2 linked regions of the Homo sapiens genome follow. The protein of the gene in region 2 purifies or fractionates together with the protein of the main gene of each other region. This does not show direct contact. Each region holds a gene or a part of one and is shown on either strand. Other genes may lie near its edges.

What was found. The genes of interacting proteins can lie anywhere in the genome.
Region 1: the proteins of OBP2A (region 2) and MOXD1 purify together in Homo sapiens (affinity purification with mass spectrometry, with the first as the bait; one large-scale study listed by BioGRID). This does not show direct contact.

What each region holds. Positions count from the first base shown.
Region 1 is NC_000006.12:132,394,616-132,399,299, forward strand, and holds part of MOXD1 (DBH-like monooxygenase protein 1 precursor), read right to left. Parts: intron 1-4,684.
Region 2 is NC_000009.12:135,544,302-135,549,688, reverse strand, and holds the start of OBP2A (odorant-binding protein 2a isoform alpha precursor), read right to left. Parts: upstream 3,564-5,387; 5' UTR 3,509-3,563; coding exon 3,437-3,508; intron 2,912-3,436; coding exon 2,778-2,911; intron 2,512-2,777; coding exon 2,441-2,511; intron 1,819-2,440; coding exon 1,708-1,818; intron 1,047-1,707; coding exon of another isoform or gene 982-1,046; coding exon 880-981; intron 382-879; coding exon 359-381; coding exon of another isoform or gene 358-358; intron 1-357. UniProt on the Homo sapiens protein: Binds and transports small hydrophobic volatile molecules with a higher affinity for aldehydes and large fatty acids, including undecanal, palmitic acid, efficient aldehydes, benzenic aldehydes, heterocyclic aldehydes and aliphatic acids.

The DNA.
Region 1 (4,684 bases), on a different chromosome or scaffold from region 2:
TGTCATAAAAAAAGAGACCAAACAGAAATTCTACAACTGAAGAATTCATTGAATTAAATAAAAAATACATTCTAAAGTTTCAACAACAGACTAGATGAAGCAAAAGAATCTCAGAACTTGAAGAGAGGTATTTTGAAATAACTCAGACAAAAATAAATTAAAAGGATAAAAAAAGAATGAGCAAAGCCTATATAACATCATAAAGTGACCAAGTATTTGAATTTAGGATCTGAGAAGGTGAAGAGAAAATGAAGGAGTTAGAAAACCTATTTAACAAAACAATAGATAAAAACTTCCCAAGTCTTGCAAAAAACTTTAGATATCCAGAAACAAGAGGCTCAAAGTTCTCCATATAGATACAATTCAAAAAGTTCTTCTGCTCAGCACATTATAGTCAAAATATCAGAGGTGAAAGACACAGAGAAAACTCAAAAAAGCAAGAGAAAAGCATCAAGTCACTTATAAAGGTACGTCTGTCAGACTAGACTAACAGCAGAAACCTTATAGACTAGGAAAGAATGGGCTGATATATTCAAGATGCTGAAAGGAAAAAAAACTGCCAACCAAGGATACCATACCCAGAAAAGTTATTCTTTATAAAATGAAAGAGAAATGAAGTCTTTCCCAGACAAGCAAAAGCTGAGGGAATTTATCACCACTAGACCAGATCTATAAGAAATGCCAAGGGAGTCCTACACCCAAAAGTGAAAGAACAATATCTAATATCATTAAAACACATGAAATATAAAAACTACTAGAGCAAACATACAAAGAAGGAAAAGACTAGAAGGTTACCACTACAGAAAAACCACAAAACCACAATAATAAAAAATAAGAGAGTAAGAAAGGAACAGAGGATACACAAAACAACTAGAAATCAGTTAATAAAATAAGAAGAATAAGCTCTCACATATCAATAATAACCCGGAATGTAAACAAATTAAAACTTTCACTTAAAAATACAGACTGGCTGAATGGGTTAAAAAACATGACCTGACTATACACTGCTTACCATACTCATCTCACCTGTAAAGCCATATACTAACTGAAATTAAAGGATGGGAAAAGAACTTCCATGCAAACAAAAATCAAAAGTGAGCATGAGTGGCTATGCTTATATCAGGTGAAACATACCTTAAGTATAAAACACTAAAAAGTGACAAAGAATGTCATTATGTAATAATAAAGGGATCAACTCAGCAAGAGCTGCATATATATTTAGAAATACAACAATTCTAAATACATATGCACTCAACACCAAAACACCCAGATCTATAAAGCAATTATTATTAGATCTAAAGGGAGTGATAGACTCCAACACAGTAATAGGAACGTTAATAGCCCACTCTCAGCATTAGACAGGTCATCTAAACAGAAAATTAACAAAGAAACATTGGATTTAAATTACACATTAGACTAAATGGACCTAACAGACATTTACAGAACATTTCATCCAACAGCTACAGAATATACATTCCTCTCATCAGCACATGAAACATTCCTTAGGACAGCCCATATGTGAGGACACAAAACAAGTCTCAACAAATTTTAAAAAATCGAAATCATATCAAGTATCTTCTCAGACCACAATGAAATAAAACTGGAAACCAATAACAAGAGGAACTTTGGAAACTGCACAAATACATGAAAATTAAACAACATACTCCTGAATGACCAATGGGTCAAGAAAGAAATTAAAGAGGAAAAAAAAATTCTGAAATAAAATGGAAACATAACATATCAAAACCTATAGGGTACAGTAAAAGCAGTGCTAACAGGAAAGTTTATAGCAACAAACACCTACATCAAAAAGTAGAAAGATTTCAAATAAATGATCTAATAATTCACCTAAAAAAAACTAGAAGAACAAGAAAAACCACACCCAAAATTAGTAGGAGAAAAGAAATAATAAAGATCAGAGCAACACTAAACAAAACAGAGACAAAAAAAATACAAAGGATCAATAAAAGGAAGTTAGTTTTTTGAAAAGATTAACAAACTTGATAAACAACTTGCTAGAATAACCAAGAAAAAAAGAGAATACCCACATAAAATCAAAAATGAAAAAATAGACAAGTATAACTGATATCAAAGAAATGCAACAGATTATCAGGGACTATTATGAACAACAATACACTCACAAACTAGAAAACCTAGAGGAAATAGATAAATTCCTTGACTCATACAACCTACCAAGACTGAATCAAGAAGAACTAAAAAACCTGAATAGACCAACAATCAGTAATGAGATTGAATCAGTAATAAAAAGTCTCCCCCAACATAGAAAGTCCAAGACTTGGGGCTTCACTGCTGAATTCCCATGTGACTGTCTTCTTACGTGATGTTCAGATAGAGTCTACATTCCCTCTTGAATCTAGTGGGCTTGTGACCACAGTGAAAGACTAAGTCATAAAAGGCTGTACAGTTGCCACCTGGCCTCTTGGTTCCCTCTTGGGACCTGCCACCATGCTGTGACAAAGTCAAGCAGCCACACAGAGAGGCTATGATCCTACCACAGCACCAGGCAAGGTCCCTGCCAAGAGCCAACATCAACTGCCAGCCATAACTTCAAGGAAACAAGGCTTCATATTCTTCCAACCACCCACTTTGGAGTTGTCCCCACCAAATTTCAGACTTGTGAGCAAAAGAAATTTGTCATTGCGTTAAGCTACTCTGTATGGAGATGGTTTGTTACCAAGAATAGACAGCCAGAACAATGGGCAAAGCCCCCAATACTGGACCCATTTCCTGGCATAGAATAGAACTGGCCTAAAAAGAAATGGGACTTGCTTCTCTGCCTTTCATGAATTTTCATTATTTGGGTTGATTCTTTATTAACATTAGACTTTCTCTCTGAGTCCCAGATTAGGCTGTCTATAAGATATATCCCAGCTGAAATTGTGTGTGAGTGTGTGTGAATGCACACTATATGATGGTTGAATTGTTGCCAGTATTTAGTAATTAGATTTTTATTTAAACACACACACACACACTCACAGAGAGAGAGAGAGAGAGAGAGACAGAAAGAAAGAAAGAAAGAAAGAAAGAAAGAAAGAAAGAAAGAAAGAAAGAAAGAAAGAAAGAAAAAGAAAGAGTAAAGAGAATCTAAATTTTGTCTTCTCTCAAAATAAAAGAACAAACAGAAGATCTGGCAATACTGAATTTACATTCCTTTTTAACAGTAATTCACTCACAAAACCCCCAGTTCCCTCAGTGCCATCTCCTCTCTGTTGCATTACATCCTGCCTGTTCCATTCAAGCTCTCATCACTCTTTTTTCTCATTTTTTAATTTATATAAATGTATGCGTTACAAGTGCAGATTCTTTACACACAGAGATTGCATAGTGGTGAAGTCAGGGCTTTTAGTGTATCCATAACCCAAATAACATACATTGTAACAAATAAGTAATTTCTATTCCTCCACACCTTCCCACTCCTTCACCCTTTTGAGTCTCTATTGTCTATCATTCCACACTCCACATCCTTGTGTACACATTATTTATCTCCCACTTATAAGTGAGAACATGCAGTATTTATCTTTCTGCATCTAGCTTGTTTCACTTAAGTTAATGGCCTCCAGTCACTCTTAGATTTATTTCCTGACATCTATAGACATTTGGACTTGTGACATCTATTAAGCCAATGATTCTCTACCTGATCGATAAAAATTTACACTTACATAGTTCTCAAGGAGTTAACACCCTTTTGAAAGAAGAGTTTAATATAATTAGGAAAATAAAAGTCAGAAAAATTTTTAAAAACTAAAGTTTTAGTTTAAAATTAAATTTAAAAGGATAAAATAAAATACATGCCAAAAAGCCACATGATGAGGTGACTAGGATAGCAACTTAGGTTATTATCATACACCCTGGTGTAATTGTCCAACTCTTAGTGGCTGCTGTGCATTTATTGATGCCCCGGGAGCCAATGTTTTTTGTGTCATTGTTCTATATAAATGTTGTTCTCGCCGGGAGCAAAATTACACAAAACATGAAGTCTACTAATAGAATCAAATATGCTACATTTAAGAATCCTATTTATGGCCTGGCGTGGTGGCTCACGCCTGTAATCCCAGCACTTTAGGAGGCCGAGGCAGGTGGATCACCTGAGGTCAGGAGTTTGAGACCAGCCTGGCCAGCCTGGTGAAACCCGGTCCCTACTAAAATACAAAAATCAGCCTGGCATGGTGACAGGCGCCTGTAATCCCAGCTACTCGGGAGGCTGAGGCACGAGAATCACTTGAACCTGAGAGGTGAGGTTGCAGTGAGCCGAGATTGCACCAGTGCAATCTAGCCTGGGCAATAAAGAGAGACTTTGTCAAAAAAAAAAAAAAAAAAAAGAGAATCCTATTCACTTTTTGGTATAGTTGCTGAAAATACTCTTCTCACACTAGTGTATGAAGAACCTTAAATAAATAGTTTCTAGAGAGGAGACTGAATTTCGAGCGTTGGAGAATGGAATCATTCAGCCTGAATAATAAAACTGAAATTGATACATTTATTTCATTTATATTATTTGGTGTATTTCATCTTATTAAACAGATTTTAAGTTAACTGTCTTTCCATTTAATTGAATAGCATAATTTTAATGCATTTTATATGTCCTAAAATGAGTAGAATGTTTATGGAAATGGAAGGTAAAATATGTCAGCCAAGTAAGAAAACGATCATCCTTTACATGTAA
Region 2 (5,387 bases):
CTGGGCAGGCCTCTGAGCATCCTTGGTGAGTGGGTGGGGGGGAGTAGACCGAGTGGGGACAGGTGCAGGGGGCGATGGGCCGAGCTGACACCTGAGGGAGCCGGAGGGAGGCCTCGCTGTGGAAAGGCCGAGGAGGACCCTCACTCGGGCTGGCAGGTGCAGGAATGGTAAAACAAAGGACTTCCCGAATGTCCCAGGAATTTTGGGTGGGCAGACTCTGAGGTGCCAACCTCGTGCCTGACCCTGGGGGGGTCTCCCTGGCTGTGTGGGATGGGAAGGGCCAGAGCAGATGTACCCTCGAACCCCGGGAACCCAGGACTCTGGGCTTGTCCAGTGCCCTCCTAAAGGCTCACTCACCCTAGTGTTCGAGAACGCAGCTTCCTGCAGAGACCAAGAAAAACCCAGGGATTAGAAGGCGCCCTAGACCAGGGCCCAGACCCCATCGCAGCCCAGGGCTCAGAGCCCCAGACCCCATCGCAGCCCAGAGCGCGGAGCCCCAGACCCCATCGCAGCCCAGAGCGCGGAGCCCCAGACCCCATCGCAGCCCAGAGCGCGGAGCCCCAGACCCCATCGCAGCCCAGAGCGCGGAGCCCCAGACCCCATCGCAGCCCAGAGCGCGGAGCCCCAGACCCCATCGCAGCCCAGAGCGCGGAGCCCCAGACCCCATCGCAGCCCAGAGCGCGGAGCCCCAGACCGCATCGCAGCCCAGAGTGCAGACCCTCCAACGACGAGGATGCTAAGCAGGGCCCAGAGCCCCTGCGAGGAGACTCGGGGCACACGGGGAATGCGGGGGACATGGGAGGACATGGGGGTCATGGGACACTGGAGATCACACAGAGACACAGGGGAACACGGGGTACTGGGCACAGCCGTCCTCACCCGTCTGCAGGGGCATGAAAATGTCCTCCTCCGAGAGTCCCTTGTGCTGCACCAATTTCTTAAATTCTTCCAGGGCCTCCAGGTTGGTATTAGGATTCCTACCTGCAGGTGAGGTGGCCAGGTGAGCCAAGGTGGGGACAGCGGCACGGCCCTGCAGGGAGCAGATGCTAAAAGGAGACGACCACGGCCCAGCATCAGGACGGGGGAGAGGCCCGAGAGTGGATCAGAGCTCAGGGGTGGGGCTGGGGACAGAAGAGATGGCAACTGTCCAGCACCAGGCAAGGGGGAGAGGAGGCCTGAGAATGGACAAGAGCTCAGGGGTGGGACTGGGGACAGAGGAGACGGCCACCGCCCAGGTGAGAGGTCCCCAGGAAAGGGGACAGTGGCAGGGTCCAAGCCACTCAGCAACCCCAGGGGGACCTGGGCAGCTCCCAAAGCCACTCTGCAGGGTCATAACCCTCACCTGGAGGGACCTTGTGTCCCAGAGGCACTGGCTGCCCTGCCGCCCTGGAGAGTCCCTGCCCCATGAAGAGCTCTGTTAAGATGCTACCTCCCCCTTAAGGTGAGGCCCCTACACCTGAGACCCCACAAGCGGCCCTTGGCAGGTTCATGTCACCGAGGGCCGTGTCTGTCCCTGCCTGGCCCACCCCACTCCCACTTCAGGAACTTGGACCAGCCATCCAGGGCAGCGCTTGGTGCCTAGCACACGAAGGCCGGCGCAGGGGGCTTCCTTTTCCCCCCGTGCCAGGGCGTGATGATGGTGGTTCCACTGGCTTCTGGAGGCAGAGACCATGGGGCAGGACATGCAGGCCCCAGCGGGCCCCTCACCCACAAGCTTTCCCATGTAGCGCAGGCCCCCACGGCGCTGGTCTTTGCAGTAAAAGACGTAGTCGTCCGTCCCGGGCAGCTCCTGCAGGTATATGAGCTTCCTGCCCCCATCTGTAGATGACAGAGAAGATGGGTCTTCAGTGCCCTCATTCCCGGAGAGAGCACTCAGGACCACACGAAGAAACACTCAGGAATGTTTCAGTGGTCACCCAGGTGCCCTGGACAGCCTGAGCCAGGCCTGGCTGCTCCGCACAGCATGGACCCGGACACGGAGGCAGGAGCCTCCTCTCGGAAGGTCCCAATGCAAGTAATGGAGCCACAAGGCCAGAGCACGTCCAGGACTAGAGTCCGGCCTTCCCAGCTCCAGCAGCTGCTCCTGCCCCACTTCCCTGTCCCTAACCCTCGGATTCCTGATCCCAAACCCTCAGCCTTGGCTTCCCATCCCTAACCCTCGGCCTCCTGGTCCCTAACACTCGGATTCCTCAATGTGTCAATGGCTAGGGCCTCCCAGAGGGCAGGCTTGATCTGGTCCATCTCTACTGTGGACAAGCCTGTCACACCTGGTGTCTGATGTCAGGGCCACCAGCCCCCCAGGAAGGAGAGGCCAGCCCCTCCTTGGAGGTGGGCAGGGCTGGGACCCTGGCAGAAGTGTGGCCTGGGCACTCTCCACCTGCAGTGGGGCTGGTGCATCCGGGGTTGGGCATGGGGAGTGGGGGGTCGGGGAGGGGCTCACAGGCGCTGAATTTGCCAGGCTCCTCCGTCTTCCGCATCAGGATTTTCTTCTGGATGCACCGATCCTCCCTCCTGGAAAACAGGAGACACTCGGGCAGCGGCTCCCAGGACACACCTGGCCCATCCTCAGCTCACCTGGTGCATGGCCCTGACCCGGCAACCTGAAAATTCCACTGCCCCCCCACCCCACCGAGCTTCAGGATGTCCTGGCTGTTTCCCTCCAAGGCAGGGGGTGACTCTTCCCAACACCCGAAATGTGGATGGGGCAATGGGCACCAGGTGGGTCTGGGGCGGGGAGCGAAAGTGGCCTGAGGGGCCCTGCAGTGGGCAACACTCACATGAAGGTGAACGTGGCTTCCAAGTTCCCACCGCCCAGGGCTGTCACCTTCACTGGGGACACCTTCCTGGGCCTCCTGTCCTCCGGAAAGTCCTTATCGACCACCATGGCCTTCACGTACCAGGTCCCTGTGATCTGGAGCAGGCCAAGGCCGTGAGCCCACCATGGGTGGCCCAGATTCTACTCTGACCCTGGCACTCAGGCCTGCAGCTATAACCAGACACCCATGGTGCCCGGCTGCCACCCCTAAAGGCAGGCTGGGTTCCTGCACCTTAGTTAGAGCTCAGCTGGAGTGAGTTAGAGCCAGCCCCCTGCTCAGGGCTCCCAGCCCCCAGTGGAAGGAGGGCATGTCTGCACCCCATGGACCCCCGGGCCCCAGCACCAGGTGAGCCCTCCCTCCACAGGGCCCAACCCTGCGAGACCTTCGGGCTTCAGGCGTCAGTGCAGCAGGAACCCCTGAGCCGAGCCTGCTCCGGCCCTGGGCCTCGGGGGGCCGTGTCTGCTGGAGGAACAATAGGACCCCTCCACCACCACCCCAGGCTGGGAGCACGGGGTCAGAAGCCAGCCTTCAGTGACACCTCCTAAAGCAGGGCCCCTGGCACTGCCCCCTGCCCAGGAGTCCACCTGGCTCCTCCATCCGCCCACGCCAACCCAGCTCACATCCTCCTCCTCCAGGGTGAAGGACAGGGCAGCGGCCAGGCCGAGCGTGACACCCAGGAACAGGGTCTTCATCTCCAGAGCTCTGTGCTGCCGACCTCGGCAGGTCACTGGGCGTCTGAACAAGGCTGTGCTGGCTCCTCTCGAGATGTTCTTTATAGCCCCCTGGCCAGTGTCCTGGGAGCACGTGGCACGGTGCACCCCTCCCCATGGTGGCAACCAGTCCTGCATCCGGGAGGGGGAGTGTCCTCATTGCTGGCATCTGGTGAACAGCAATTCAGTGCCAGCCAGAGAAGAAAAGACACACGATGCTGTCCAGGGTTTGCATCCAAATGCGCCCACTTGGATGAGCCCGGAGGACTCCAGAGGACAGGGCAGGGTAGTGCACGTCTGCACCCCGAGCCACAGAGGGAGGGCCCACGGCTCGGAATTCTTCCTCCCTCACCCCTGAGCCCTCCCAGGGCCACGGCTGGGACCCTGGGCAAGTCCTCTGGGGAACTGGCCATCTCCCTGCTGAGCAGAAATGGACTGGGCTTTAGAACCATAGAGACGTGGGGCTGCTGCCAGCTGAGTCCCGCACGCCCTAGAGCCCAAGCTTCCGCCCACTCTGGGACCCACTCTGCATTGATTTTCCCCACCTGGACCCTGCACTCGAGCTTCCTAGGGGCAGAGAAGGGCACTATTGTGTGGTTCAAGGTCAGTATATATACGGCCTCCTCGGGCCATATGAGGGACCCCGCCGCCTGCCCCACCCCGCTTCACTCCGTACCGGAGCCTGGCTGTGCTGTCCTCAGAACACGTGATCTCTCTGGATTGTCCTGCCTGTTTCTTCCTGCACGTGTTCATCATCCATCTCCCTGTTAAATACAAGTGGTAGAGTGGAATATACATTCACTCTACATCCCCTCTCTCGTCAGCTTCGACGGCCCCCAGCCACCGGGACAGGCCTTGAATCTCATCCCTTTAGATAAATGGGTGGCATGAGCATCAAGAGCCACCTGCCAGCCTGTGCTCAGAGTTTGTGGCTGAGCTCCCTTGGGCACCTGGCTCCGCTGGCCTCATCCCCAGCCAACCTGAGCCAGAACTTTGCCTTCTCCCTCCTGGACCCTGTAGTTCCCGGGCCTGCGTCATCTGCCCTGGGACCCAAGGCTGACCCACGCTCTGCAGGCAGGTGCTGGGCCCACACAATCTTTGTGCCTCTCTGGCCCAAGATCAGACACCCTCAAGTGCTTGCTAAATAATACTAATGCACACTCTAATAAACCCTGGGGGCTATAAAGAAAGGGCTGGCGTGACCCAGTGCCTCACCCCTCTCACGGCAAGTGCTGCCGAGCAGAAACCCCATCCTTAGGGCGGGGACTGGGCTCTTCAGGACCAGAGATGAGCAAACAGGCTGGAGTCTCTACCTCAACGGGAAGATTTCTCCGTTCCCCATTTTTGTTGCCTGTACCCCAGGCACCTTGTATTTCTTTTTTTTTTTTTTTTTTTTTTTTTGAGACGGAATCTCGCTCTGTCGCCCAGGCTGGAGTGCAGTGGCGGGATCTCGGCTCACTGCAAGCTCCGCCTCCCGGGTTCACGCCATTCTCCTGCCTCAGCCTCCCAAGTAGCTGGGACTACAGGCGCCCGCCACTACGCCCGGCTAATTTTTTTTTGTATTTTTAGTAGAGACGGGGTTTCACCGTTTTAGCCGGGATGGTCTCGATCTCCTGACCTTGTGATCCGCCCGCCTCGGCCTCCCAAAGTGCTGGGATTACAGGCGTGAGCCACCGCGCCCAGCCGGCACCTTGTATTTCATTGGTTGGTTGTGAATCATTGATTTAAGCACCGTATGACACTGGTGCTGCTGGCTCAATCCTTGAAGAAAATGCTGGAACAACACGCGCAGATGCTTCAGGGAACAGGTCACCCCCATGAATTCTATGCTCGCTGGTACGGGTGCTCTCCAGGAGCCTCC